Regions from separate parts of the Homo sapiens genome. Here region 2 is linked to region 1. Evidence: fine-mapped expression QTL. A gene starts in region 1. The other region holds a variant in brackets. All regions are shown on one strand. Distances are between the middles of the regions. Region 1 holds the start of NLN (neurolysin). Region 2 overlaps NLN (neurolysin).

Region 1 (15,812 bases):
AAACTCAGGCGAGCTGTTTCTAGATTTATATAGTCGACTCTATGATGCTACATGCACTTTGCAATGCGGCAGCTTGGCATTTACATATGTATTCAATACACATCAGTTTCCTTGGTTCTTCATATCTTTAATTCAGGGGATTCTTCCCAAGTAAGTCCTGTGCTTTGTCTTAACCAAAGAGGTGATAATGTTTAACTCTGAGAAAGAACCAGGTTGCTTCTGACCAAAACCAGGGTTAAAGGACAAACAAAAAAGAAAGAAATCAATCCTCGGCGGAGCACGGTGGTTCACGCCTGTAATCCCAGCACTTTGGGAGGCCGACGCGGGTGAATCATGAGATCAGGAGTTCGAGACCAGCCTAGCCAACATGGTAAAACCCCGTCTCTGCTAAAAATACAAAATATTAGCTGGGCGTGGTGGCAGGTGCCTGTAATCCCAGCTACTCCGGAGGCTGAGGCAGGAGAATCACTTGAACCCAGGAGGCGGAGGTTGCAGTGATCCAAGATCGTGCCACTGCACTCCAGCCCGGGCAACAGTGCAAGACTCCATCCTAAAAAAAAAAAAAAAAAAAAAAAGAAAAGAAAACCTATTTTATAACCAAATCCATTTGTACAAATAATGTCAACCTAGCTCTTGATACTTTAACTTAAAAAACCCTTTCTTTACTAGATTTTTTTCCCCAATACTGTTCTCTTAACATTTTGGAGATTATGCCTACTGGTTTTAGAGGAATAATCTCAATTTTATTTAATTACACTTAGACCTGTAAATATTGTTAAGTTTATTAATAACTGTAATTTAGGCTGGGCCCAGTAGCTCATGCCTGTAATCCCAGCACTCTGGAAGGTTGAGGCGGGCAGATCACTCGAGCCCAGGAATTAGAGACCAGCTTGGGCAACATGGCGAAGCCCTGTCTCTACAAGAAATACAAAGATTAGCCGGGTGTGGTGGCAAACACCTGTAGTCCCAGCTACTCGGGAGGCTGAAGTGGGAGGATCGTTTGAGCCCGGGAGGTCGAGGCTGCAGTGAGCCATGATCATGCCACTGCACTCTAGCCTGGGCAACCAAGTGAGACTCTGTCTCAAACAAACAAACAAAAACACCAAGAAAACTGTAATTGAATTTGTCTGACTTTCTAAGATTTTCCATATAAATAAATTTTCACATCAGACAACAAATAACTTTTTGGTTTCCAGACCACAACTCCTGAATTTTTGTTTAGGAATTATACTCACTGAATAAACCTTCCAAAAATGTATGAAAATGCAAATTATAATAAGAGAAATTTCCACTTATCAAACTGGTAAGGATAAAAAAAATTAAAATGCTCAATGTTGGTAACAGTATAGGAAACCAGCATTTACTTACTCACCTGGTAAGGTTATAATTTGGGAGAAAGTTTTTAGAATAGAATAAGATGATAAGTACCAAAGACCTGAAAGGTATGCATGCCCTTTGATGTACAAATTCCATTTGTAAGAATTTATACTAAGAAAATAACTAAAGATTTGGAAAAGGACAATAGGAATGTTTATCCAAGCACTATTACTCATTGCAGGAAGTTGGGAATAGTTGACATTTCTAAAGGCGTATATTAATCAAATTGCATACATCCCCAAAAGGAATATATTATAGCTATTTATATTTTAGGGGATGTTTGTATAATATTAAAAATTATAAAAGAATAACAATATCATATTTATAAAAAGAAAGTCTGTTCATAGAGGAAATTTTGAAAGCTGTTAAGAATTGGCTGTTCCAGGTGGCTGGATTATATATATATTTAATATTTTCTTTTGCTTGTCATTACTTGCTAAGTTTTCAATAATGAACACGCATTGCTGTCATCATTTTAAAAAACCAAGCTGTGTTTTTTAGGCCAGGTGCAGTGGCTCACGCCTATAATCCCAGCACTTTAGGAAGCTGAGGTGGGCAGATCACTTGAGGTCAGGAGTTCAAGACCAGCCAGGCCCACATAGTGAAACCCCAGCTCTACTAAAAATACAAAAAATCAGCCAGGCGTGGTTGTGGGGACCTGTAATCCCAGCCACTCAGGAGCCTGAGGCAGGATAATTGCTTGAACCCAGAAGGCAGAGGTTGCAGTGAGCCGAGATCATGCCACTGTATTCCAGCCTGGGCAACAGAGCGAGACTGTCTCAAAAAAACAAAAACCAAAAAACAAACCAAGCTGTCTTTTCTAATTGCAAGAGGAAGCTAGGCTATTACAGCTATTGTTTCGGCTAAATATTGTTGAGTCAACCTTCTCGTTTGTTTCTTTGACCATGTCACTCATCCCTCTTATTCTATAATATACATTAGGCTTTGCTTGGGTCACATGCTGTACAATCTGAGGTAGGAGGAGGAATTCTCCTGGTTTGCTATGGCAATATAGAGGTTTTTTGCTTTTTGTTTTTTTTTTAAGGCCTTAGCTATTATTTAGTCTAGTCCTTTTCATTTTACAATATAAGGAACCTGGGCCAGGCATGATAGTACACTCCTGTAATCCCAGCACTTTCAGAGGTTGAGATGGGAGGATCATTTGTGGCCAGGAATTCTAGACTAGCCTCGGCAACATAGCAAGATCCTATCTCTACAAACAATTTTTTCAAATTAGCTGGGCATGGTGGTGAGCGCCTGTAGTCCCAGCTACTCAGAAGGCTGAGGCAGGGAGGATTGTTTGAAACCAGAGTTTGAGACCGCAGTGAGCCATGATCATGCCCCACTGCACTTCAGCCTGGATGACAGAGTGAGACCTTGTCTCTAAAATACATACATACATAGGTACATAACTTGAAAGAGGTCCAAGGGAGTGAGTGATTTTTTTAAGGTCACAAAGTGAATTGAACAGCAACTATAATCCAAACTCCAGATTCTCAGTCCACTTATTCCCAAGAAGTTGGCTGAACACCCCAATCAATGATCCTAGCTGGAAGCTGGCCTTGGGAAGGGGATATAGCAGCTCTGCCAACAAGAAAACCCAATGGAAACTGTAAGTCAGTTAGGCAAAAGCCTAGTTACTCCATAACACTAAAATGAACTCCCAAGTGTCAGAGGAAACAGGAAAAACAGGAGAACACAGGGGGTCCTCCATGTTGTCTAATATGAACTCTTTTGGAAGATACTGATTTTGAAACAGAGCAGATTCTGTGATTAAGTCAAGGAAGCCCTGGGTTAAGGACTACCATATATGATGATTAACTGTAAGATATGCCCTTATGTAACAAATTAGTTAATATATTTATGGTAGCTTCTAACAAGGTAATAATTTTTTGGCTATTAGTATATTTATTTTCTTCCATGCATAAACAAAGAATCTAATACCACATATCGGCAGCTCTCAAAATGTAGTCCACAAACCTTAAAGGTAGAGGTATGGGGAGGGGTTCCTGAGACACTTTCAAGGAATCTGTGAGGTTAAAAATCTTTCATAACAATACTAAGACATTATTTATCCTTTTTACTTTATGAACATTTGCACTGATGGCGAAAAGGAATGGTGGATAATACTGTTGGTACTTCAGCACAAATTGAGGCAATGACACCAAACTATACTAGTAGCTATATTTTTCATTGCCATGCACTCAGGCTAAAAATAATGTCAATTTCATTTTAGAATATCCTTAATGAAATGGTAAAAAGTATGAATTTTTATTAAATCTCTACCTTTGAGTTATATGTGACCAAGTACACACAAAGCATTTCTGCTGTGTACCTGAGTATAAGGGTTGTCCTGAGGATTTGGTTGCCCAAATCAAAAGCACTTTTGCAATTGGTTGAACTGTGAGCTGAAATAGATTTTTTTCATGGAAAACCATTTTTTTTTTTTTTTTTTTGAGACGGAGTCTCGCTCTGTCGCCCAGGCTGGAGTGCAGTGGCACAATCTCGGCGCACTGCAAACTCCACCTTCCGGGTTCACGCCATTCTCCTGCCTCAGCCTCCCGAGTAGTTGGGACTACAGGCGCCCGCCACCACGCCCGGCTAATTTTTTGTATTTTCAGTAGAGACAGGGTTTCACCGTGTTAGCCAGGATGGTCTCGATCTCCTGACTTCGTGATCCACCTGCCATGGCCTCCCAAAGTGCTGGGATTACAGGCGTGAGCCACCGTGCCCAGCCCATGGAACACCATTTTTACCAGAAAAAAACTACTGACAGACAAACCAGGGTTATTCAGACTTAAGTATGTGGCAGAAATTCTGTCAAAAATGTAACAAAGTGAGATTGTCACTTCAAGTAAAACAACTGACAGTTTGTGTTACCAATGATAAAATTCTAGCTTTCAAGTGAAAACTAGAATTTTGGAAAATCCTATCTGCCACTGTGAGCTTGACAGCTTCCCAATACTTGAAGACTTTTCCGACTAAATAGGAAGACATTAAGGAAAGTGATTGTTTGATACTGTATAATGAAATATGTCAACATTAGGAAGAACTGTATAACACAGTGAACCACTAAAATTTCCGAAGGACTTATGCTTAATGTTTTAAAAAACAGGCATGGATTCAACATCCATTCAAAGTGTAAGGTACACCATTGGATATTAATGTAACAGTGTAAAACAAGTACATTGATATAGTTTCAAATTCCACTTTGTAACTAACCTTTAAAAAGCTACGATTTGTCAAACTTTGATGTGATATCAAAGAACATCCATGATTATCTTTAAAAAGCTATTAAAATATTCTTCTTTCCAACTTCATATGACTGTGAGGTGGGATTTTCTTCATCTTAAACCAAAATGAAACAGTGCAGCAGCTTAAATGCAGAGGCAGACATAAGAATCCAGTTACCTTCTATTATGTCACACATTAGTTTTGCAAAAATGCGAAACAGTGCCACTTCTGCCGGGCGCAGTGGCTCACGCCTGTAATCCCAGCACTTTGGGAGGCCGAGACAGGCGGATCACGAGGTCAGGAGATCGAGACCATCCTGGCTAACAGGATGAAACCCCGTCTCTACTAAAAATAAAAAAAAAAAATTAGCCGGGCGTGGTTGCGGGCGCCTGTAGTCCCAGCTACTTGGGAGGCTGAGGCAGGGGAATGGCGTGAACCCGGGAGGCGGCGCTTGCAGTGAGCCGAGATAGCGCCACTGCATTCCAGCCTGGGCGACAGAGAGAGACTCTGTCTCAAAAAAAAAAAAAAAGAAAAAAAAAAGAAACAATGCCACTCCTAGGATAACTGTTATCAAAACCAGGAAATAAGTGCTGATGATGATGTGGAGAAATTGGAATCCTTAGGTACTGCCAATGGGAATGTAAAAATGGTACAGCCACTGAAGAAAACAGTATGGTTTCAAAAACTAAACATAGTACTATCCTATGACTCAGCAATTTTCACTTCTAGGTACATACAGTATCCCAAAGAATTAAAAGCAGGGATTCAAACAGACATGTGCACATTAATGATCATAGTAGTAGTATTCACAATAGCCAAAAGGTGGAAGCAACCCAAATGTCCACTGACAAATGGATAAACAAAATGTGGTATATACATACAATGAAATATTATTCAGTTTTAAAAAGGAAATCCCGACACATGCTTCAAAACGAATAAACCTTAAAAACGCTATACTAAATAAACCAGACGCAAAAGGACAAATATTGTCTAATTCCACTTATATAAGGGACCTGAAATACTCAAATTCATAGAGAAAAAATAATGGTTAACCAGGGATTGGGGGAGGAAGTAATGGGCAGTTATTGTGTAATAGGTACAGGGTTTCAGTTTGGGATGATGACAAGTTCTGGAGATGGACAGTGGTGTTGGCTGTACCTCTCAATTGTACACTTAAAAATTATCAAAATGGTAAATTTTGTTATATCTTACCACAATTTTAAAAAAAAGGGAAAAAACCCCACAATGTTAATCTTCTCACTGATTGGGGGGCGGGGGGGTTGGTTTGGAAAATAGTTATTTTTCATTAAAATCACTATTTATGCACCTAGCCTATTTATTAGTTTTGTAAATTAACAACTACTTTAATTTTTTTCCAGCTTTAATGTCTAATATGGTAAATATAGACAGATATACCACACAAACAGAAGCTCTTAGGTCCACGGTAATTTTTGAAAGGTAAAGGGGTCCTGAGAATAAAAAGTTTGAGAATTGTTCTTTTTTTTTTTTTTTTTTTTTTGAGACGGAGTCTTGCTCTGTCGCCCAGGCTAGAGTACAGTGGTGCGATCTCGGCTCACTGCAAGCTTCGCCTCCCGGGTTCATGCCATTCTCCTGCCTCAGCCTCCCGAGTAGCTGGGACTACAGGCGCCCGCCACCACGCCCGGCTAATTTTTTGTATTTTTTAGTAGAGACGGGGTTTCACCGTGTTAGCCAGGATGGTCTCGATCTCCTGACCTCGTGATCCACCCGCCTCGGCCTCCCAAAGTGCTGGGATTACAGGCATGAGCCACAGCGCCCGGCCGAGAATTGCTCTTATATGAAGATTTATTCCCTCCTCTCACCCCTGCATTATGTGAAGTCTTCATTTCTTGGTATAACTTCATTTGACAGCTATATCGATTGCAGCCTGGAGACTAGCAAAAAACGACAGGCTGAAATATGGTCACCAATCACCACATTAACTCTTTGTAATTAACCACTGTCGCCTGCCTGCTCCCTAACTCTACGGACTGAGCAACACAAAGCTCCATCCACACAGACGAGTGGCAATGTGCAAAAGGGAACTGTAGAAAGCTTAAATGCTGACATGTTACAAAGTAGTTTTGTTGATAGCTAGCAAGAAGCACACATTTTCTTTATTCTGTTGAATCTTCATTTGGATTTACAGTTCTGGGCAGATTTGGAAACGGGGATGGTGGCGGCATTGTTTCCGAAAACCAGCGCATCCGTGCAAAGAATTTAATTCCCTCACCATCTTGCTACTGGTCTGTTGCAGTGGGGTGTGGTTAGAGGGCTAGGAAGCAATCCAAAACAGCAGCTCAGGCTGCCCAAAGCCGTGTCCAAGCGATCATTTTCTCCATTTTGGGCCAAGTCAATTTGCACCGGCAAGAGGCAGAATGTTTGTTTTATGGGGAGGAGGAAAATAAAAAAGGAAGTCAGAGAGCATGGACGGAAACAAGCAACACCACCAAAGAGGTTTCATCTCGGGTGGATGTTAAACGATTGGAATGCTAATAATGGGCGCGAGGAGCAAACACAATTGTTCTGAGTCCACAGCTGCGGCACTTTTAATGACAGGTCTGTAGTTCTGCATTGGGATTGAACGTGAAATGATTTTCTTATCCAAACTATTTGCATTCATTTTGGGCCGCGTCTGTGACCAGCCTCGCTGACTGCGGCTGAGGCAGTCCCAAACAAAGAGGAATGGACGTCCTCCCGAGGGAGCGGAGGCGGGAAAGGTGGCCCCAGGTGGCCGCGCCAGGTGTCCCCCAGGGGTCCACCTTGCAAGCCGCGGGGAGGGTGCGTCCCGGGAGCGTCGGAGAGGCGCGGTCGGGAAGGGGTGGGTCCGGGCTCCAGGCACCACACGGCGAAAGACCCCGCCCTGCCCACGGCCAAGGTTAACCCGCGCGCTGGAGGTACCTGCGGAGGCTTCGCACAGCCAAAAGGCACCGGGCGATCATGGGAGCGCTGAGAGGCTGGCGGCGGCGGGCGCGTGGTCCTTCGGCGTGGGGCGGCGAGGCGGGCGGCAGCGCCTGGGCGCCCGGGAGTCTCGAGCCGGCCTAGCCGCAGAGGCCACAGTGGCTGCCTGGCCAGCGCCCTCCCACGTGCGGCAGCTCCACGCCGGCGCCTACCAGCCCCGCCCCGCGCCGTGCCCCGCCCCAGCTCGCGTGTCTGGCCCCGCCCCAGCCCTCGCGTCCGGCCCCGCCCCAGGGGCGGTGCTGGCCAGACCCTGCCGCCTGAGAGAGAGCACAGCCTGGTGGGTTCTGGGGTCTACGGCCTAGGGGCCGGGGAAGTTTGCGCCGCCGCGACCAGTGCTGCGATCCCGAGCCGGGCTCCAGCCCCGAGGACCAGGGGTCGGGCGGGCCTGCCTACGGAACCCCGCGGGCCAGCAGCAGTCGTCTCGCGTCCTCCTGCTTGGTAAGGGGCTTCTGTCTGGCAAGGGTGCGCCTCCCGCCGCTCCGGACCGGGGCCCGCACCGGCACCCGCTGCACACCGGGCAGGGCCGAGGCGAGGCCGGGTACCTGAGGGAGGACGGAAGGGAGGGGGAGCTCGATGCGCTCTGGGGAGAGGAAGGGGGAGAAGCCTATTTCCCTCTTCTCACCCCTTTTCCCCCCATTCTGTTTTTACCTTCTGCCCTGGGGCCTTATTTAGTGCTTATGACCCCGTGGCCTAGAGGCTGACATCGCCTTTAAAATAACTACACAAATAATAAACATTATAGCGGCGGGTACCACACCCTGGCTTTGAATTAGGGAACCTGGGGAGCAGATGGATGATGCGATTTGGTGGAAATCAGCCATGAATGCCGCCTGGCCCTGCGCCACTGTTTGGATGCGATAGTATTCCATGTGAATGAACATGACCGGGAGCTTCCAGCTTGTCCACGAGAGCACAGCCTCTGCAGGGAGCGCCGGTCGGCTTGTAGTATCCATCGACTTGGGCAGCGATTTCCTGACATGTCTGCTGATTAAATAGAAATGCCATTTTTATTAAGAACGACACTCACCACTTGAATAACCTTTCGCGAATGTGTTTCCTCATCAAATAACTCTCAACCTACAAAAGTGGGTAGAGTGTACATTATTAATACTTTTTTTAGATCCCATGAAAAAGAGGAAGATGCTTGGTATACATCAGCTTTTAGTCAGCAGTATGAAATGCCTCTTAACTTAGTACTGAGGCCTTTAGGGGATTTCTGTATGGTGAGATATGCAGTGACAGTCTAAGCTTATGCTGTACATGTTTTGAAGACATTTTTACTTATTCCAAGATTTAACATACTCGTATACCACTGGGTATTAATGAAAATATGTAATAAATTACCTTCACAATACTTTGTGCTCTCCTGACTCTTTACAAAGAGAAAAGATGAAAGGTCATACAGTTTTGTGTTTTGTTTTTACCTTTAATACACTTTATAACCCATATCATCTTTGTAATTTATGACTTTCCTGACTGATTCTTTAAAATAACTTAGTTCAGTGTTTTCATTTTTCTTATCAAGGAAAAGTGTTTAAGCTTCTAAAATGTCATCTATCAAGCACCTGGTTTATGCAGTTATTCGTTTCTTACGGGAACAAAGTCAGATGGACACTTACACCTCGGATGAACAAGAAAGTTTGGAAGGTATGCATCTGCTCTTTGTGTTCATTTATATTATAATTATAAACGAAGACTAAAATAGCTGTAAGCCCAACTTGATGATCTATTGTAACATAATCAGAATTTTTTTTGATCTTTCAAGAGGAGAGGCCTGACTATAAGGTTATCGTATTTCCATTTTCTGAAGCTTGTTTTGTTTGTTTTAACAACAAATTAAGAGGACTATTGTTCATTTATTGAACAAATACTATATGTCAGAAGTATGCTGTTCATATTATAGGCAATTTTTTCTTCACAGCAACTGTTATGTTAGTATTATCCCCATTTAACAAGTGAGAAAATAAAACCAGGGCCAGGCTTGGTGGCTCATGCCTGTAATCCCAGCACTTTGGGAGGCCGAGGCAGGTAGGTCATTTGAGGTCAGGAGTTCAAGACCAGGCTGGGCAACATGGCAAAACCCTGTCTCTACTAAAAATACAAAAAGTAGCCAGGTGTGGTGGCACTTGCCTGTAGTCCCAGCTACTCAGGAGGCTGAGATAGGAGGGTGGCTTAAACCCAGGAGGTGGAGGTTGCAGTGAGCTGAGATCACACCACTGCACTCCAGCCTGGGCCATGAGCGAGACCCTATCTCAAAAAAAAAAAAAAAAAAAGAAAAAGAAAATGAAACCAAATAGCGTAAGCAGATAACACAGCTGATATGTGATAAAGCTGAGATTTAAATCCTGGTTAATACTCTGAAGATCTTGTTGTCTCCATTTCCTAATAGGAAAGCATCCAGTTTAGAAATAATATATAAAAATACCTGAGTCATTTTAATAGCACTATGTAAAAGTCTAATAATTATACCACTAGTGAGATCTGACCAGTGCCTAATTTGGAACTTGAAATGGGAGCATTTCACCTGTGTTTTACGTTAACTTTAATATTGGATTCGGTAATCTGTAAAGTTGAACAGGATGTGGGTGATAGCATCATGTGTTTCCTCGACACCGTCTTTGTTCTTCATGTTTATGTGTTATAAAATTTAAATTCAGTACAACCATAACAAGGTAGAATTCTGCAGATGGGCTTGTGGAGGTTCAGTGAATCTGGTGTCCCTGTGGCCTAAAGTCTTTTATTTATTTATTTATTTTTTGAGACAGGGTCTGTCTGGCTCTGTCACCCAGGCTGGAGTGTAGTGGCACAATCTCGGCTCACTGCAACCTCCACCTCCTGGGCTCAATTGATCCTCCCACCTCGGCCTCCTGAGTAGCTGGGACTACAGGAGTACACTACCACACCCGGCTAAGTTTTGTATTTTTTTTTGTAGAGACAGAGTTTCGCCATGTTGCCCAGGCTGTTCTCAAACTCCTGGGCTCAAGTGATCCACTCGCCTTGGCCTCCCAAAGTACTGAGATTACAGGCATGAGCCACCCCTCCCAGCCCCAAAGTCTTAATTATTGCAGTGAGAGTGCATTTGGAAGAACTTAATAAATGACAGTATAGTTATAAATCCCATCTTGAAACTGCTTCTATAATTTCAACAAGCATTTCCCTGTGAATATGCTTTTAGGAGGTGGAGATGAAAATTGGGCATTTGCTCTAAACCTCCTTGCAGTCTGGTTAGTTGATGTCTTTCCAGGTGGCAGTGAGAGGAGCAGGTGATGCACAGTTGGAGAACATTGCAATCAGTCCATTTAATATTAAGGTCTTTTTGTTCTCCTTGATGATTAGACTATGTGAAAATAAAGTTGATTGGTTATCTAAGGAGAATGTTAGTTATGATTGCTCTGTAGCAAACAGATAAATGCAGTCATTTAAGAAAAGATGTTTCTTTTCTAATCAAAAGCAGCATAAAAGTTTTAAGGGCCAGAAAGAAAATTGAGGGTTTTTTTTTCAAACCAAGATGTTATGTCCTATTTTTAGGATGGTATTCAGCCAAAAATATGTGCCTTCAGCTGTTTGTTATATATGGCAGTCAGAAAGGGTGCCAATTGTTTTTGACTGACCCCTATTTTTGACTCTGTGAGTCTAATTTAATTGAACATGAAATCATGTGGAGGTGTCTGCCCACCTTCTAGACATTTTTAAAAGCCCTAGGAAAGAAGCCTCAGTTCTAATACCAGCTTTACCACTACTGTGAAGCTGGTATATCATCAGCTTTGTCTTGCCATCAGATTATGTCACCCACTCCTCTTAATTATTGTCATCTACTGACATTTGCTTCATTCCTTGACTAATTGTGGTTCCTGCTCACTGTCACTCTCTCTAGCACTACTCCTATTTAGTTCTTGGCAATTGCAATATACTGATTGATGATTATTTTAGTTCCCTGGCTCTCAGTTATTGACCTCATCCAGTGATCTCAAACACTTGATCATATTCTAGATCAGTGGTTCTCAACTTGGGGGTGATTTTGCAATATCTGGATACATTCTGATTGTCACAACTGGGTGAGGCGGGTGGCTGGTATTATTGGCATCTAGTGAGTAGGTAGAGGCCATGGATGCTGCTAATGCACAGGACAGCCCCTGACAAGAAGAAATTACCTGATCCAAAATGTCAGTATGCGGAGATTGAGAAAGCCTTCCCTAGACTTAATCATTACCAGAATTGCATTCCTTCCCTAATCTCTATCCCAAACATTTCACTTCCTGACCACTATTGCCTGTCTTTCCAAGATTACTCCCTCTAGAATCCCTACTCCAGCTATTCTTTGACCCAACCAGTACCTCCAATCTGTTCATGCCTCACCTTTCCCCACACCTCTTCTTACTCATCTTAAATTCCATGGTTGATAATTATAATTATTCCCTTGTATCTCCTTCCCTTTCTTGCAAAGCCCAACTTTGTTTAAATCCAACTCTCCACCTACTTTGTGCCCAACTACTCACACCCACTCATGTAGCCGTAAATAAATGGAGCAAAACACACAACTTTGCTGACTAGTCCCACTTTAAATTCATGACTGTGAACTTCAAGTAGACCTTTAATGCTGTCAGGCAATCACAGTATCTGTTCTAAGTTCATTCATACATTTATTTTCCTAGATGACCATTTTAACACTTTCTCATATCTTCTCAAACCCTCAAACCTCCTTCACTGTCCTCACTTTTAGTTGGTTACCTTGCTTTCTACTCCACCAAGAAAGCTGAAATAATAAGAAAATAGCTGGATATGATGGCACCCACATACTCGGCCTGCCTGCCTGTTTGACTAGCTATTACCATAGATGGACTATTCATGTTCCTTTCTAAATGGAACCCCTCTACTGGTATACTAGATCCCATCCTGTCTCACCTACTCCAGGATATCACTTTAGTTATTTTATTTTTTTAATCTTACATCATAAAATTTTCATACCCTACTGGATCATTTCCATCATCATATAAACTTACCATTATTCTCCCTTCTTCAAAAAAGCAAAAACAAACAGCAAATAATTACTGCTTAATTGTATGTCTCCCTTTGCAGCAAAACCATTTGAAAGAATGGTCTATACTTGCTTTCTCCAACTCCTCTCCTTCTATTCTTCTTAAACCCATTCTGATTAAGCCTTTGCCTCAATCTCTCAATCTATACCACTCTCATCAAGGACATTAGTGATTTCTGTGTTGTTTAATTTAATGGTCAGTTCTCAGCTTTCATCTGAGTTATTAGCTGTCATTGATAATGTTGATGGTCATTTCCTCATGAAATGACCCCCACCACCCCCAGTATATTTTATTTAGTTTCCAGGATACCTCATACTTTCTTGGCTTTCTTATCTCATTGTTTGCTTCTTTTCTGTCCCCTTTTCTGGTTCCTCTTCTTTTCCCTGACCTGGTGTACCCAGGGTCCACTGCTTGATCCTCTTCTTTTCATTATCTATACCCATTTCTTTGGTGATATCATTCGGCTTCTTAGCCTTAAATACCCCTTATTTATATGCTATTTCCCAAATTTATGCCCTCAGCCCAGACCTTTCTTCTGAAGGTCTTATATATCCAAGTACCTACTAGATATCTCCACTTGCATGTCTAATAGGCATCCCAAATTTAACATGGCCAAAACCGAACTTCTGATTCCCCCACCCAAAATCTGTTCTGTATGCAATTTCCCAATCTCTGTTTATGTCAGCGTCATCTTTTCTGTTGCTCAGGCCAGAAACTTGGGTATCATTCTGGACTCTTCTCTTTCTCAAATACCCTGTAACTAATCATTCAATAAATCCTGTTGGCTACACTTTCAAAATATGTCTAGATTTGACATCTCTTATACCACCTCTGGACTGAACTATTTCTTGACTGTTTTAGTGTGATAGCCTCTAACTGGTCTCTCTGCTTCTATTCTTGCCCCTCCATTGGCTGTTCCAAACACAGGCACCAGTGATCTTTACAAACAGAGTATGTGAGTTTCTATCATTTATCTACTCAAAACATTGTTTAAAGGATCTATATAATTTGACTTCTGTGACATATTGTTCACCTACTCCTCCCCTTTCTCATTTGGCTTCAGCCATTATTAGCTTTCTCTTTATAAATGTACCATATCCTCTTGCCTAAGGGCTTTTGCTCTGGCTGGTTCCTCTGCCTGGAATGGTCTTCACAGATAATGCTAACACCCCCGTCTCCTTTAAGTCTTTGTCAAATCTCTTTTCTCAGTAAGGCCTACCCTGAACTCTCTGTTAAACCTGCAGCTGTGGGCCGGGTGCGGTGGCTCACACCTGTAATCCCAGTACTTCGGGAGGCCGAGGCGGGCGGATCACTTGAGGTCGGGAATTTGAGACCAGCCTGGCCAACATGGTGAAACTCCCTCTCTACTAAAAATACAAAAATTAGCCAGGCGTGGTGGCACACGTCTGTAATCCCAGCTACTCAGGAGGCTGAGGCAGGAGAATAGCTTAAACTCGGGAGGCACAGGTTACAGTGAGCCAAGATTACGCCACTGCACTCCAGCCTGGGCAATAGAGCGAGACTCCGTCTCAAAAACAACAACAACAACAACAAAAACCCTGCAGCTGCTTTTCTGCTCAGCTGCCCACACTCTCCATCCTCCTTACCCTTTACTACCTGTTTATTGTTTATGGTCCACCTCTCCATCTCCTACTAGGAAGGAAATCCCAAGAGGTTAGGGATCTTTTCTGTTTTATTCACTGATATGTCAAAAGTGTCTAGAAAAGTGCTTGACACATAGTAGGTGCTTAATAAATATTTGTTGAATTGAATCCAATGGTCTCGGGCATTTCCCTTAGTTGGTTTGGATCTTAGTTTCTAAGTCTATTTGGTAGAGATACTTGCCTTCCTTGCAGCCAATATATTTGTGAAGAGAATCTGAATCAGCGAATGGCAGGTACATAGCATGTGAAAACTTTTGAATTAAGTGTTATACAGATAGGATGTGGTATTACTGAATAGAATTCTTCACTCATCTTTCTCTATCAGTACCAGACTATTTTTGTTCGGTGTTACAGTGAAACAATAAGTATATATAGTATTTGTTTAGATTTTGTGACTTATTCCTGAATGTCTATTATTTTCATTAGGAATAAATAGGAATAGATTCTTCTAAAAGGAAGATCAAATGTAATAATCTCTGTTTGATAAATGAGAATCTTGAGGTAAATGTAAGTTAAATTATTGTACCCAGGTTATTTAATTTTTTCAGCCTGGATTAATAAGGATAACGAGACAGGCCTGAGTTCCAAGGCTGTGGTTAGCTTTGTTCACTAATCCCAACTTCACTAATCCCAATCAATTTCTCAAATCCAACTTTTCTCTCTAATTCATTCTCAATGTTCCTGCCAGACTTTTAGTTCTAAACATAATTTAGTTACGTTATTCTCCCTCACTAAATTCTTTAATGGTTCTCCATTTGCTCATTCCTTGAAGTCTAAATCTTTTTAAAAATGCAATTTCAGGTGCCTTGTCATCTAATGACAGACTTCTTTTGGTTTTTGAAGACAGAGTCTCGCTCTGTCGCCCAGGCTAGAGTGCAGTGGGGTGATCTCGGCTCACTGCAACCACTGCCTCCTGGGTTCAAGCAATTCCCATGCCTCAGCCTCCCGAGTAGCTGGGATTACAGGGGCATGCAATCACATCTGGCTAATTTTTACTTTTTTAGCGGAGATGGGGTTTCACCATGTTGGCCAGGCTGGTCTTGAACTCCTGACCTCAGGTGATCTGCCTGCCTCAGCCTCCCAAAGTGCTGGGATTATAGGCGTGAGCCACCGAACCTGGCCTCCAACGACAGACTTCAAACATAATCCCTCACCATGTCTTTCCACCCACTGTATACCCTAGCCATACCAACCACTTATTTTGCCATACAATAAAAATAGACAAGGCCCCTATCAGCATTTAACATGCTTTATATTTTGCTTATTATATTTGTTGTCTTCCTTTATTAAAATATAAGCTTTATCATGTAGACAGTGATTTTTTTCTGTTAGGTTTATTACTGTTTCTCTACCACCTTAGACCAGTGCCTTACAGATAGTAGGCACTTGGCAAATTTGCATAGATGAATGAATTTTTAAAATCTATCTTCACATAAGTACACCAAGATTAATATTTAGTGCTTCTTCCTATGTGCTGGGGGCTATGTTCTGTTACTATTAATGTTTTTAATTAATGGAGAAT
Region 2 (15,812 bases), 65 kb before region 1:
AGCCACCATGCCTGGCCTATCTTATTTATTTTTTGAGACAGGCTCTGGCCCTATTGCCCAGGCTGGAGTGCAATGGCACACTCTCAGCTCACTGCAACTTCCACCTTCCAGGCTCAAACCATCCTCCCCCTTCAGCCTCCCAAAGTGCTGGGGTTATGGGTGTGAGCTGCCATGCCTAGCCTTGCAAAGCCTAGCCACACTACCGCACCCAGCTAATTTTTTTTATTTTTGGTAGAGATGGGTTTTCACCATGTTGCCCAGCCTGGTCTTGAACCCCTAGGGTCAAAGCAATCCTCCTGCCTCGGCCTCCCAAAGTGCTGGGATTACAGGCATGAACCACCACGCCCAGTCAGTGCTATGAAAATGAATTTTAAAAACACCTAAGAAAGAAAGATTATTCTGAAAGATTTATTTTCCTTGGATTAAAGAGAGATTAAAAATGGCCATATCAGGACATTTCTCTGGACATACTCATATACTATTCCCCTCTGTTTTTTAAAACAAAAGATGGAAGCACCAGGTTAAAGATAAAATGTTGAAAGAACCAGTTTTTAAACAAAGGTGACAGAATTATTTTGGAAATGAATGGGTACATTTTGGGTTATTACAATGATTAGGGCTACTCTGGGATATAGGGATGCTGGATGCACAGGACTGATTCTGCACATGTCAGGACAACAAAAAGACTGTTCCATATCCTGCTCGTCATTCATACCCCCTGCTGGACTATTCACATAAATCAAAAAAACTAGCTGTAACTAAACCGAGAAACTAACCCCACTGTACATATTTTTGCAAAGCATTTTTTTTTTCTTTTGAGACCGGGTCTCACTTTTTCACCCAGGCTGGAGAGCAGTGGCGCGATCACAGCTCACCGCAGCCTCGACCTCCTGGGCTCAGGCAATCCTCCTGCCTCAGCCTTCTGAGTAGCTGGGACTACAGGTGTGTGTCATCATACCTGGCTAATTTTTGTATCTTTTGTAGAGACTGGGTTTCACAATGTTGCTGGTCTTGAACTCCTGAGCTCAGGCGATCTGCCGCCCTTGGCCTCCCAAAGTGCTGGGGTTGTGGGTGTGAGCTGCCATGCCTAGCCTTGCGAAGCATTTTTTACACCATTTTAATTTCTAAGACTACAAGTACTAGGATCTACTGTGTAAGTTGAAGTGAGATTACTTTCTTTTGAAGTTTCCCAGGAGGTGTTCATCATTTTGGAACCTCATGCCACCATTGTCAGCACTGTTCTAGGACCTGAGCTGACAACATAAACCACTTCCATCAGTTTGCACTTGCTGCTGCTCCATTCAGGGTTACTTCCATACAGTGCAAACCTCCAGCATACTTCATTATGTCTTACTGCATAGTCATATCCAAGCATTATCACTTGAAAAATACAAAAATTTCTTCTATTTATATTCAGTGAGGACACCGTATGGATTTAAGAAGATTCTCTGTATAAAGACCATTAAGGAAAACTAGTAAAATCCAAATAAACTGTGGTGTTCAGTCTGGAGTACTGTATCAATGCTGGCTTCTTAGCTATGACAAATGTGCTATTGGAATGGAAGATGTTACAAGTAGGGGTGAGAGGCTGAGGGGTATACAGGCAATCCTTATATCATCTTTGCAAGTTTTCTATGAATCTAAAAGTATCCTAATAAAAATGTTTTTGTTTTTGTTGTTGTTGTTTTTTAAGTCTACCTTTAGAGACATACAGAGATTTCAAATTTGGAAAACTGTACCTTCATTTCTGTTACTATCAGTTTTTTGGGTGGTTTTCTTTTTTTTTTTTTTAAGTCAAGGTCTGCTCTGTCACCCAGGCTGTGGTGCAGTGGCACAATCATGGCTCACTACAACCTCAACCTCCTGAACTCAAGTGATCCTCCCACCTCAGCCTCCCGAGTAGCTGGGACCACAGGCACATACCACCATGCCTGGATAATTTTTGTTTGTTTTACCACGTTGCCCAGGCTGTTCTCAAACTCCTAGACTCAAGCGATCCTTCCACCTTGGCCTCCCAAAGTGCTGGGATTACAGGCATGAGCCACCATGCCCAGCCAAATAACAGTATATTTCAACTATTACGGTGAATTGCTGAACTAGACATTTTCATATGTTAATAATGGTTAAATGTTAGCAAGTTCATATGGTTCATGCTAGAATAGTCTGGGCCTAATTAAATGGACTGTATTACAAAGTTGAGAATAAATGTACTTTTTATTTTCAGAAATAAAAAAATCAGTTTTAATCTACTGCACACATACACCTCCACTCTGGCAAATTCTTTGCATGGTTAGACTATATTATCTATGATTTTAATTTGAAGTTAGTAAAGGCAAATGTTACAAAATTATTATTTAAAAATGAGTAAAGGGTCTAAGAGGATTGAAAAACCACTAAAGTAAACAAAGCATTGATAAGCAGAAGAGACAGATTACAGCACAGTTTTTCTGAGAAATTTATATCAAATTCCTAAAGGATTAAAAGGAAAAAGCAAAGTATTTGTAACCTTTCCTTACAGATAGTCTTATTCTTTTTCCATAGGCTGTTATTCAACAAACATCTTTCACTGGTAGATGAACCTCCAAGTAAAAATATGTTGTGAAAGAGGACAGGATAAGGAAAATTTTGGTTTTGCAGAAGGCCTATAAAATTCTTGAACACATTCAGCTTCTGAAAAAACCTGTTAGGAGCAGAAACCTGACAGCAGTCAAGAAGTTTTCTAAAAAAACTAATTGGCAGGTTTACTGGGGGAAAAAAAAAACTCACCTGTGCACAAATCTGATGCATCACGTGACCAAACTCATGAAAGTAAGTCCTCACCTCGTCGTGTCTCAGGAGAGAGGGACGACCTGCCACTGGCTGTGAGAAGTTCACCACGAGGGCAGCCACTGCCATCATCCGGCTTCCATCAGGCAGAAGGCAGCCAGGCTGGAGACCGAAGCAGGCCGCATGATTGTATTTTCCTTCCCTAGGAGCCAGAAACACGCGTTGGCAACATAGGAAAATTCTCCTCTAGCAACTACACTGGCATGGCCTCTTCCAGTCATTAAGCCATATCTGTTACCAGAGATGCCTTTAAACATTAATTTACCTTTTAGAAAGTAGGTTATTTTGCTAAAATGGAAAAACTAAAGCTAAACAAACAATAACCCCACTAACATTCTGTGTGAGCTCCGAAGTTTCTTTTATTGAAAAATCTCGAGGTAAGAATGAAGAATGCATGTCACACCGACAGCTGAATGTCCAATTTATTTTAATGAGGTTCTACTTTTCTTTTTCAAAGATGGGATTACTAAACACTAAACAATGCTGAAACCCACATTTGAAATAAAAGATACAGTTTGACTCACTAGGCAGCCTTTTCATTAAAATCGGAATAAAAAACTGAATTTCTGACGATAAGGTTTTTCCTTTTATTTGAGGAGGAAAGAATCAGTAATCACAATTAAATAAGCTTCTTTTATAAACTAGACAGGCCTTTTTGAAACAGAATGCTTTTAGTTAGCCTGGGAAAATGCATAAATTATACTATCAATTAGACTATTCTTGTACAGTGTCGTATCTGTGTGGTCTTTCCAAAAGCTATTAGACTTCATTCTCCAAAAGCTATCAGACTTCATTTTGGGAGTACGTGTCCTTTCCCCCTTTTCTTTTGCTCAGAAGACTAATAGTACCTGGTCTTTTTATTTTTTTTTTTTTGAGACAGAGTCTTGCTCTGTCATCCAGGCTGGAGTGCAGTGGCATGATCTCAGCTCACTGCAACCTCTGCCTCCCAGGTTCAAGCAATTCTCCTGCCTCTGCCTCCTGAGTAGCTGGTATTACATATATACAACACCACGCTGGTTAATTTTGTTCTCTTGTTTTGAGACGGAGTCTTGCTCTGTTGCCCAGGCTGGGGTGCGGTGGCAAGATACTGGCTAACTATAATGTCCACCTCCTGGGTTCAAATGATTCTCCTGCCTCAGCCTCTAGAGTAGCTGGGACTACAAGTGCCTGCCACCACACCCAGCTAATTTTTGTATTTTTAGTAGAGATGGGGTTTTCCCACGTTGGCCAAGCTGGTCTCAAACTCCTGACCTCAGGTGATCTGCCCTCCTTGGCCTCCCAAAGTGCTGGGACTATAGGTGTGAGTCACTGTGCACAGCCTAATTTTTGTATTTTTACTAGAGATGGGGTTTCACCATGTTGACCAAGCTGGTCTTGAACTCCTGGCCTCAAGTGATCCACCTGCCTCAGCCTCCCAAAGTGCTGGGATTACAGCCACTGCACCCAGACAGTACCTGGTCTTTTTAAAACCTATTCTGAATACCCTTTTTAAAAGTCAGTTAGACAAATAAAACAAGTTAATCCCTTTTACCTTTATGAAGAGAACATCTTAAGATGACAGGAAGTAAGTATTAACTAGGTCACTACTTTCACAAAGATTACTCTCTGTTACCCACACCAGGGTGCTGGTAGCAATGACCAGATCTCTCAGTACAAAAGAAATTAATTATATCCTGGCAGTGAGACAGCAGAATGAGGTAGCAAGAATTGTTATTTGACGCTGGAAAGAAAATCTGAGGACAGTTATAGGAGACTCCAATATTAAAGGATTACTCCTGAAAGAGTTCTTCGGTTAAAACTATATCCTGATACTTTTTATTTAAAAATAAGACTCATCTATATTTGGCAGGGTTTTACTTTTAGGTCATAATATTAGTGAAAGTAAGTCCATAAAGCAGCAGGTGATGTGATTTGGCTGTGTCTCCACCCAAAGCTTATCTTGAATTGTAGTTCTCATAATCCCCACGTGTCGTGGGAGGGACCCAGTGGGAAGTAATTGATTCATGGGGTAGCCAGTCTCATGATAGTGAGTGAGTTCTCACAAGAGCTGATGGTTTCATAAGGGGCTTTCCCCTGTTGGCTTGGCACTTCCCCTTCCTGCCGCCACGTGAAGAAGGATGTGTTTGTTTCCCCTTCTGCCATGATTGTAAGTTTCCTGAGGTCTCCCCAGCCCTGCAGAACTGTAAGTCAATTAAACTTCTTTCCTTTATAAATTACCCAGTCTCAGTCAGTTCTTTACAGCACTGTGAGAAAGGACTAATACACCAGGATAATCACTTAGGTGCTAAAAGACACTTCTGCCCACCAACTAGATGACACAGTTACTCAACCTACTTTTCAGCACTCAAAGTCAGTGGATTACAAACTTGTGTGTATTACTGAATGAGGGGGATACTATACTCTCCTTTGATCTATTTAAATGATTAGTAATTGTAAGAGGTTGACTTTGCTTTAGAAAGTAGCCTGGGGAGAAAGAGATCCAAATCCTTTTGTATCTGATGAAACACTATGGAATCTATAGTTATTACATGCTATAGACACAATTATAACATTTTTATAATTGTTACCACTGATATCTGGGGAAGATGATTTGCACATATAGTCTTTAATGCATAAAACAATCCTGTAAAAGGATTTCCAGTCCCATATTACAGAGGAAGAAACAGAATCTCAAAGAGGTTATGTCACTCAAGCATTCAAACTCAAATCTGACTGACTGCAAAGGTTTTGCTACTTCTACTAAACTGTGCTGCCTCTCAGCCAGACTGAAGGGAGTGGCCATAGATTATTGGCAGACAGATTATCTAATAAATATTTTGGTGCTCAATTTTATTTATTTATGTTTTTTGAGTTAGAATCTTGCTCTGTCGCCCTGGCTGGAGTATAGTGGCGTGATCTCAGTTCCAGGGTTCAAGCTATTCTCATACCTTGGCCTCCCAAGTAGCTGAGACTACAGATGCCTGTTAAATTTTTGTATTTTTAGTAGAGACAGGGTTTCACCATATTGGCCAGGCTGATCTTGAACTCCCGACCTCAAGTGATCTGCCCACCTCAGCCTTCCAAAATGCTGGGATTACAGGTGTGAGCCACCATGTCTGGGTGGTGGTCAATATTCAATTAAGTAAATGTAGTGCACAAACTAGATGATGATGATAATGACAATGGTAGCAGCTAACTCTGATTAAGCCTTTGCTATGTGCTGAGCAGTCTTCTAAATGCTTTGCATGTATTCAACCAATTTAATCCTTACAGTGACCATACAAAGCAGGTACTACTAATATTCCCAGTTTATAGGACCTATAATATAGGTAAGAAAACTGGGGCACAGAAAAATTAAGTAACCTACCTAGTAAATGATGATGCCAGACATTCTGGCTTCAGACCCACATTTTAAATCTGTATACTAAGAAGCCCATGTGAGAAATATGGAAGAGTAGAGTCTTTTTTTAAATTAATTTTTTTAGAGATAGGGTCTAGCTCTGTCACCTAGGCTAGAATGCAGCAGTGTGATAATAGCTCACTGTAACCTTAAACTCCTGGACTCAAGTGATCCTCCTGCTTCAGCACAGCTAGGACTACAGGTGTGCACACCACACCTGGCTAATTTTTCATTTTTTTTTTTTTGAGACAGGGTCTCACTCTGTCACCCAGGCTGGAGTGCAGTGTTGCAATCTTGGCTCACTGCAGCCTCCACCTCTGAGGCTCAAGTGATCCTCCCACCTCAGCCTCTCAAGTACCTGGGACTATAGGCATGTACCACTACACCTGGCTAATTTTTGTATTTTTTGTAGCAACAGAGTTTTGCCATGTTGCCCAGTCTGGTCTTGAAGTCCTAGACTCAAGCAATCCACCTGCCTCGGCCTCCCAAAGTGCTGGGACTACAGGCATGAGCCACCACACTTGACCTAATTTTTAAATTTTTTGTAGAGACAGGGCCTCACTATGTTGCCCAGGCTGGTCTCGAACTCCTAGCCTCAAGCAATCCTCCCACCTTGGCCTCCCAAAGTGTTGGGATTACAGGCATGAGCCACTGTGCCTGGCCAAGAGTAGAGTCTTAAAGTAGGCATAGCTGAATCCCTAAGGTCCCTTCCAACAACGTGATCCTCAGTACCTTGGATAGAGGTCCAAATAGAACTGTCCCAATACTTCTCCTGTAGCTTTATCCTTCACAGTATAAAGTGTAACACTCTTGTTCCAAACATGAGCATCTGTCATTTGTTCAAATGAAAGTCCCAACAACTCCTGGTAGGTGTTCAGCAAGCCTTCAGTGACCACCTCAATTGGGAAGTATTCCTTGAGGAACTCTTGGTCTATGGAATACTTGAGTTCCTCTGTCTGAGTCATGTAGTAATATAGATCCCAGGCATTGATTTTCCCATCATATTCAAAACCCCTGTCTTTGCATTCCTTTTTCTTCAAATTCAAAATAAACTCTCGTTCTGCTTCACCCAAGGGTTTTAACTTCTGGCTTAAATCATCTGTAAGGAAAAGGAAAAGTTAGTGATCTACTTGCTTTTGGAAGCAAGCATACTCATAAATACCACCTGTGTTTTAGCA[T/C]GGTGCTTCCTCCTTTGCAGTACTCAATACAGATAAATAAGGCGGAAAGAGGTAAAGGAGGAGGAAAAACGTGAGGGAGGAAAGCAGGCTGTATTATGGAAGCACACTTTGCTCTTCGGGGTTATTGATTTTATGGTCCTAGCCCCTTTTTCTTTTAACACCCCCAGAACTGGGCCATGAGTTCCTCAATTCATCACCAAAGCTCAAGTTTATCTCAGAGAACGCTGACTGAAGAATGTTATTCAGGGAAAAAAGCACTAGTGAAACTAAAGTCATGTACATGATTATTCTTCAATGAAGACAGTCAGACTCCTAAGAAAGCTAGGGAAAACACATCAGATGTGACCTGTGGTCAATGTTATCTAGAAATTCCTATCACTGGGTTTAGTTTCTCATTACCCCATTTCTGTGAAGGTTTATCTGGACACAGCAATTCCAGTTTTTAGCTGGAGAAACTTCTGAGAACCACAAATTATATTGCTGTGGTCAATTTTTCACTTTACTGTATTTGGATAAATGAGTATGGTCTTATGTATTTATTTTTTACATTTTGTTACATACGTTACGATAAAAACATGCCTGGCTCTGCAAAGGACATGGCAGTTCAGAAGGCAACCTCACAATGTGAGAGATGGAGGAGCAGCCCGAGGAATACCGTGAAGAGAAGTGAGGAAACTCATGGAGGATACAAAGATATAGTTTTCCATATATATATCCATGTGCATGTGTGCGTGCATGTGTCTGTGTGTGCGCATGTATGTATACACACACACACACACACACATACATATATATATATATAAAGAGAGAGAGAGAGAGTGAGTGAGTTTTGCTATGTTGCCCAGGCTGGACTCCAACTCTCAGATTCAAGGGATCCTCGCACTTTAGCCTCTCAAGAGGACACTTTGCATAGGAATATGCCAATCTCAAATTAGAAGGAAAACTCCTTTAAATGAATTAAGTTAATCAGGTGGTTACTAAGGAAAATTTTAGTGTATGCAATCACCACTGAAGGAAACATTCTTTACAAACCTGTTAACTCTCTGAGCCATCCTCTTGTATACCATGCATCAGACTGTAGAGTAATTACCTGTTCACACTTCTGTTGTTTCTAGTAAGTGACAAATCCATTGAGAAAAAGACCTTGTCTCTTTTTAAAAAATTATTTTTATTTTTAGAGACAGGATTTTGCTCTGTCACCCAGGCTGGAGCACAGTGGCATGATCATGGCTCACTGCAGCCTTGAACTCCTGGGCTCAAGGGATCCTCCCACCTCAGCCTCCCAAGTAGCTAGAATTACAGGCATGTGCTACCATGCCTGGCTAATTTTTAAATTTTTCTGTAGAGACAGGGTTGGGGTCTCTTTGTTTCCCAAGCTGGTCTTGGACTCTGGGTCTCAAGTAGTCCTCTCACCTCGGCCTCCCGAAGTGCTGGGATTACAGGCATGAACTGCCATGCCCAGCCAAAAGGACCTTGTTTTACTCCTTTCTGTAATCCTACTATTTAGCATACTGCCTAAGGCTGAATAGTTATTTCATAAACGTCTCATGAATGAATGAGTGAATTATACAAAAACAAATATGTACCATTTATGGAGTTTAACATTATAGTTACTAGATAACAGTTTTTATACATATTATTTTATATTAGTTATTAGATACTAGTTTTATGTATATTATTTTATATTAGTTTTGTATATTAACAAGTGGTTTCTGGAATATTAAATGTTTTTTGTTTATGTATGTTTTATTTTTATGTACGTCATATTTGTCAGCTTATTTTATACAAATTCATAAGCAGCCATGCTATGACTACTAAATCCCTAGTGAAGAGAATAAAGCCAGTAACTTTAGTAACTCTCTGTTAGAACCTACATGTCATGTTAGGAATTAGTATAAAAAGCCTAAAGAAGATATAAGATACAGTGAAGCCAGGCCTATACTAGCAATATAAACAATAAGCAGTCCCTACAACCAAGCACACTATCTAACACTTAATAGGTGATCAATATACTTCTCTCAAATGAAGGAAAAGTAGGATGTCCTCAAAGGCATATTATGTTCTGAGGCCTTCTGTCTGGTTGACATGGTATAGCAAAACAGTCATAGAAAAAAAAAAAAGAACTAACCTAGAAAGGCTGTTACGCGGCTTGTGCTCTTTGCAGTGTTCATTTCAAGGACGAAGTCAGCATGTGTGCTATAACCGAGTAGTTTGGCCACCTTGGTTCGCAGTGGGAGTAGCTGCTGCAAAATTATGGTGTTTTCCTAGTAATAAACAACAGCAACAAAATAAAGGCTAATCAATAATTTGATCCAAAGCACTAAAAGGAAGAATTACTGTATGTATTTTTAGGTTTGTAAAATTATCAAATATTTTTAGACCATTTAAATTTCTGGTTCCATTTTGGTGTTATAGGCTTTTTTTTTTTTTTTTGGATTCATGATTTCGTTTTATTTCTGAAACAATTTATGACTTTTTAAACTTCAGAACTATGAGGTCTTAATAAAATTGTAGGTGCTACAAACTTAGAGTGAAAATATATTTTTAAGGAATATAGCGAATCCATATTTACTTCTACTGACAGAACTGCACCAAATATTGGTACTTTCAGTTCCTTTGGACATTTTTATTGTGGTAAAATACACATAACGTAAAATTTATCTTTTTAATTTCATACCCAGTTGTATGGCTACTATTTTTAAAAACATAGAAAATGTGCTGGTGAGGAAATGGAGAAATTGGAACCCTTGCACATTGCTGATGAGAATGTAAAGTAGTTTAGCTGCTGTAGAAAACGGTATGGTGATTCCTAAAAAAATTATACCATATGATCCAGCAATTCTACATCTCAGTAAATAACAAAGATAATTGAAAGCAGAGACTCGAAGAGAGATCTATACACCCATGTCCACAGCAGCATTATTTATAACAGCCAAAAGATGGAAGCAACCCAAGTGTCCATGGACAGATATACAGGTAAACAAAATGTGGTATATATATACAATGGAATATAACTCTGCCTTTACAAGGAAGGAAATTCTGACACATGCTACAACATGGATGACCCTTTAAGGTATGCTAAGTGAAATAAGCCAGATACAAAAAGACAAATATTTTATTATTCCACTTATATGAAGTTCCTAGAGTAGTGAAATTCACAGAGACACAGAATAGAATAGTAATTGCCAGGGCCTGGGGATAGGGGATAATGGGGAGTTAATGCTTAATGGGTAGAGTTTCAGTTAAGGAAGATGAAAAAACTCTGCAGGTGGATACAGGTGATGGCTGCAGAAAAATATAAACATATTCTCAATGTGAATATACTTAATGCCACATGCTATGGTCTGAATGTTCCCCAAAATTCATGTGTTGAAACATAATCCCTTTTGAGGTAGTGTTAAATGGCAGGGCCTTTTGGGAATTGACCAATGAATTAGTGCCTTATAAAAGGGCTACAGCTAAAGAACTTGGGCCTTTTCTGCCCTTCCCCCTTCTGCCATGTGAGGATATAGAAAAAAGGCCCTTTCTAGACACTGAATGCCGATGCCCCTTGATCTTGAATTTCTCAGCCTTCAGAACTGTGAAAAATTTCTATTGTTCATAAATTACTTCGTCTGTGGTATTTTGTTATAGCAGCACAAATGAACTAAGGCACCATAAAATTCTGCTTTTAAAAATGTTTCAGGGATTTTTCCCAAATTAACATTACAAATATCTTTTATATTTTATTTGTATTAAAAATACAAAAATTGATATTATTTTATTATTTTCTTAGCAATGAAATAAAAGTAATTCTCCTAGAGGAAGTAAGTAAATGTTAAAGTAAAAGAAAAAACTGATTCCAATAATCAAATCAGCAAATTATTTATAGACTGGTTTCTAAGGAAAATCACACACTGAGGTCACACTACCTGCATTCAAAATTTGGTTCCACCATTTACTAGTTACCTGATCTTGGGCAAATTCTGGAGCTTTCTGACCCTCAGTTTTCTCATTTGCAAGATGTGGAAAATAAAAATACATACACTGGAGAGTAATCATGAAGATTCAAATGAAAATATATGTAAAGTGCTTAGACAAATGCCTGGCACATAACCAAACACTATATAATTATCTGTTATAATTATTATTATTTTAAAACTAAAATGGAAAACATAGAAGAGAAACATACATAATGTAATTCTCCAAGTTCTAAAATTAAATAGTTTAATTAGATTTTTCTTTCATTTTTTGCAGTTTCTCCAGATCTTCTCTCTAGACTGCCAATTTTCTCCCAATATCTGTTCTCTCATTTTTTCTTTTAGTAATATAACTCTGAATTTTTTTTTTTTTTTTAATTTTCATAGAGGTGAGGTCTTGCCATATTGCTGAGGCTGGTCTTGAACTCCTGGCCTCAAGCAATCCTCTTGCCTTGGCCTCCCAAAGCGTTGGGATTACAAGTGTGAGCCACTGTGCCTGGCTGAACTCTGAATTTTTGCCGGACACTTGGTTACCTAATTACGTTTCCCAGCCTTCCTCAAAGCCAGCTGTGGCCATGTGATACTCAATGGGACAATGGGATGTGAATGAAGTGATGAGTGAAATTTCTGGGTCATGTCTGATAGATCTTTGCCTTGCTGGCTGTGAACTGAAGATGACCTCAATGACCCTGAAAGCCACACCCTGAGGATGGTAGAGCTGTCTTCCACCTCTGGACCACTCACCTCTTGACTTACAGTTATAAGACAAATCTTTTAAAAAAAAATTGTGGTAAAATCTGCCATTTTAGCCATGTAAAATTCAACGGCAATAATACTCATTCTATTGTGCAACCACTACCATCATCTGTTTCTAAAACTTATCCATTACCCCAAACAGAAACTCTGTAACCATTAACTCCTCAGTCTTCCCTCTCCCCATTCCCTGGTAACCTCTAATCTACTTTCTGGAAAGATAAAACTTTTATCTTATTTGAGTTAACTGTGCTTTTGACTTCTGTCAAGTCCCTTAGCCTGGACCCTAACATATGTAGAGATTAATACCAGAAATTGGGTGGTACTAACAATAAAAATGAAAAATGTACAGGAATGGAAGGTAAGGACCCAGACATTGCAGGCTGGGAAGCAGGTTCTCATTATACCATGGGCATTTGTGAAAACTGTTGCTTGCCATAACTCAGACAGCAGGCCATGTACCTACTGAGTCTTAGCCTAGAGGAATTGTTTGGGAAAGCTAATACTGTTGGGAGGTGTTTTTTTGGCATTTGTTGCTTTTTGAAAGATTACATGGGAGAGATAAGCTTGGGTGAGAATTGGCCAGTTTCTAAAGATGGAAGGAAAAGAATTCTGCTCAGGGAGGTTCTGCCTATGGCCTACAATCTTCAGATGGTTGGAAAAGCCAATTGCTCTGTGTTCCTAGTGTTAAGAGAAAAGGCTGTCACTCCGAGTTACTGAACTGCAGACATGAATTTGAGAATGCTGCCTTCCTCCACAAGCTCACTATGTTCAGAGGGCCTGAAAGCAGACTTCATTAAATGGAGGAAGAGTGAGATGGATAAATTCAGAAGACAGTATATAAGATTTGGCAAGTTTAAGAACTATGACCAAAAGTGATATTTGGGTATAGTTATTTTGACATGCATCTGATTAGCAGCAAACAGACAACAAACCTACATTTTTGAGGAGGCTGTATTACCAAAGATATCGTAAGTCTGGCCTACAAAAGTTTGGATTATTTGATCCCTAAAGCAACCCTTGGGATTCTACCTGACATTAGCAGGACCAGCAGTCCCCCAAGATATGGTCATCAAGGATAATGGACAAAAACAATTCCCTGTGGGCAAAACTGGGGGCCATGGAGTAAAATTGATAAAGGAATTCTTATGAGAAAGCAGACCCAAGTTTAGTCCAACAAGCTAACCAAGAAACGTCACCATAGTACAGAATCTTCCCAGTTCCTGAGGAATTTGAAAATTTTAGAAAATTGCTATGAGCTTGCTATGTTTCCCAGTCTTTCTTTTTCCAAATGGGACTTTTCAGTGCGGTTATTCTTTTCCTATGCCATCACTGGGAGTGTTGGGGGAGGGTGTGGGGGTGAGGAGCTGATAACTTGTCTTCCTTTTATAGTTTGCTGGATTATGAGAAGCTACAACCAGGAAGAACTGTATCACCCAGAGATCCTGGTCTTTGAGCTTCAGGCAGTAACTGGGAATTAACAAATGGTGAATGGGTCCTATGTAAGGAAAAAAGGGTCCTCATGGTTACTTGGATAGCTAGAGAGGCAGATCACGGTAGAACTGGCTAGATGACTGAGAATCCCTGTCTACTTCTTCCTTTTTTCTTTTTCATATTAAAGCAGGACTTACCAGTGCTGGATTGTTGATTTAGGAGAGGAGCAACAGAATTCTAATTTATTTAATCCATTCTATTTTTATTAGAACAGCTTATCCTGTGACCACACCAAGCAGGTTGTCAATGAGCAATGAAAAAGCTAAAAGTCTTGTAAGTCTGAGGAATTAGAGATACAGTGCACACACAGGAATATCAGTCTCTGAGCTGACTTTGACACTGGTGAACAAAGTAAACCCTTTTCTTAAAATATTCCATTAAAAACAAAAGAAAGACAAACATTTATAATACCTCTTTGCACCTTGTATTAAAAGCCATTTCCATCCTTCTTCTGGTTTCAGGGATACAACATTTCTTCATGACAGGGAAATAGTGTGGATATTTTAAGGTAATTTTATACTTGTCATCATCTGTCTTTTCTAAACTGTCAATGAAATCATCAGGAAGAGCACCTGCAAAAAATCATTTTCTCATATATCAAATTTTCCACTCATTGCTGGTTTATTTAGTATTGGCATGGTGCCTTTTGGTAGCTCTAGGAATTTTGTGTAGTAATTGAAATTCAAGTAAAATAATGACAATCCTTTAAATATCATTTTGATGTTGCTGGAATTGGGGTGGCTGTTAGAGGCCAGGTGCCTTGGGAGACGGCAATTCAAAATATGAACAGGTTTCAGTAAACTTGTGCAAATGATGTTTCAGTGGAGAACAGGCAAAATTAAGTGAAGAAAGACCCAGGAAAGCTGGGCACAGTGGCTCATGCGTGTAATCCCAGCACTTTGGGAGGCTGAAGTGGGTGGATCATGAGGTCAAGAAATCGAGACCATTCTGGCCAACATGGTGAAACCCCGTCTCTACTAAAAGTACAAAAATTAGCTGGGCGTGGTGGCACATGCCTGTAGTCCCAGCTACTTGGGAGGCTGAGGCAAGAGAATTGCTTGAACCAGGGAGGTGGAGGTTGCAGTGAGGCGAGATTGCGCCATCGCACTCCAGCCTGGCAACAGAGCGAGACTCCGTCTCAAAAAAAGAAAAGAAAAGAAAAGAAAAAAGACCCAGGACTGAGTAAGAAGAGACTAGTTTAAGATACAATGCAGGAAACAATGCAAGTCAAAAAAAAATTTTAAGGCACTGAAGGCTGTTAAACACAACTATAAACTACCAAGAAAAATTATGAAAAAAAAAAAAGATTATTAAGTCCCCTCTGGACTGTCTCTAGAAATTTTATATACCCTCATTAGCCTAAAATCTAATTTTGGTTGGTTTGATTGTCTCTTCTGTAGAAGGGGTGGTGGACTTAGGTACTGGATCATTTTTTAAATAATTATTTGAACTATGATTTAGAAATTTTGTATCTGGAAAGTAAAACAAACTGTGAGGTAACACTATTTGCCTAAATTATATGATTTAATCTAGAAAAATAATAAAACTTACCAAGTTCAGCCTTGGAAAATACAAGGAAGGTATCATCCTCATTGAGGTTTTTGTTAAAATCAATACATAGCTCACTCATTCTTTTCTTCATTGATTTGATTTCCTGAAAGGAAGATAAAAATACAGGGCATTAGCAATAAAAAGAAACTCATTTTTTGCCAGGCACGGTGGCCCACACCTGTAATCCCAGCAATTTGGGAGGCTAAGGTGGGTGGATCATTTGAGGTCAAGAGTCCAAGACCAGCCTGGCTAACATGGTGAAAGCCAGTCTCTACTAAAAATACAAAAATTAGCTGGATGTGGTGGTGTGTGCTTATAATCCCAGCTACTCAGGAGGCTGAGGCAGGAGAATTGTTTGAAAAAAACAACTCATTTTTATCACCATCAATTGAGTAAGTTTCACTTTCATATGAAGATTGACTTCTGTGCCCAAACTCCAGGAAGTACTTCTGTAGAGATGTGCTTGATAAAACAGGTTTCTGCAGTCCACTATGTCATGTCCACGTGTATCTGTGTGTAGCACTTATAGAAAGGCAAGCCTGGTGGTGTCTTGGAAATTAGTTGTGAATTTGAAGAATAAATTTAGGAGGTACAGTAAACACAATATATTGCACATAGTACATACACAATAAATAGTTTCTGAGTGAATGAATAAATCTAGCAGTGCATTAC

The links. PIP is the estimated chance that this variant, and not a neighbour inherited with it, causes the effect.
Region 2: its variant is fine-mapped to the expression of NLN in whole blood (INTERVAL, PIP 0.97).

What each region holds. Positions count from the first base shown.
Region 1 is chr5:65,714,133-65,729,944 of GRCh38, reverse strand. NLN (neurolysin) reads right to left here and starts at 7,740. Exons shown (of 13, transcript NM_020726.5): 1 at 7,531-7,740. The coding sequence starts at 7,571. SGTB (small glutamine rich tetratricopeptide repeat co-chaperone beta) reads left to right here and starts at 7,836. Exons shown (of 11, transcript NM_019072.3): 1 at 7,836-8,028; 2 at 9,116-9,237. The coding sequence starts at 9,138. RefSeq lists silencers at 2,591-2,640, 7,426-8,035, 8,106-8,155, 8,216-8,265, 10,310-10,506 and enhancers at 6,476-6,555, 6,328-7,149.
Region 2 is chr5:65,779,610-65,795,421 of GRCh38, reverse strand. It overlaps NLN (neurolysin), which reads right to left. Exons shown (of 13, transcript NM_020726.5): 5 at 15,141-15,243; 6 at 14,001-14,161; 7 at 9,512-9,647; 8 at 6,938-7,304; 9 at 2,767-2,968. Among named protein-coding and RNA genes, the nearest start is that of NLN, 65 kb to the right of the region's middle. The variant T/C (reference allele first, on the strand shown) is at 7,384.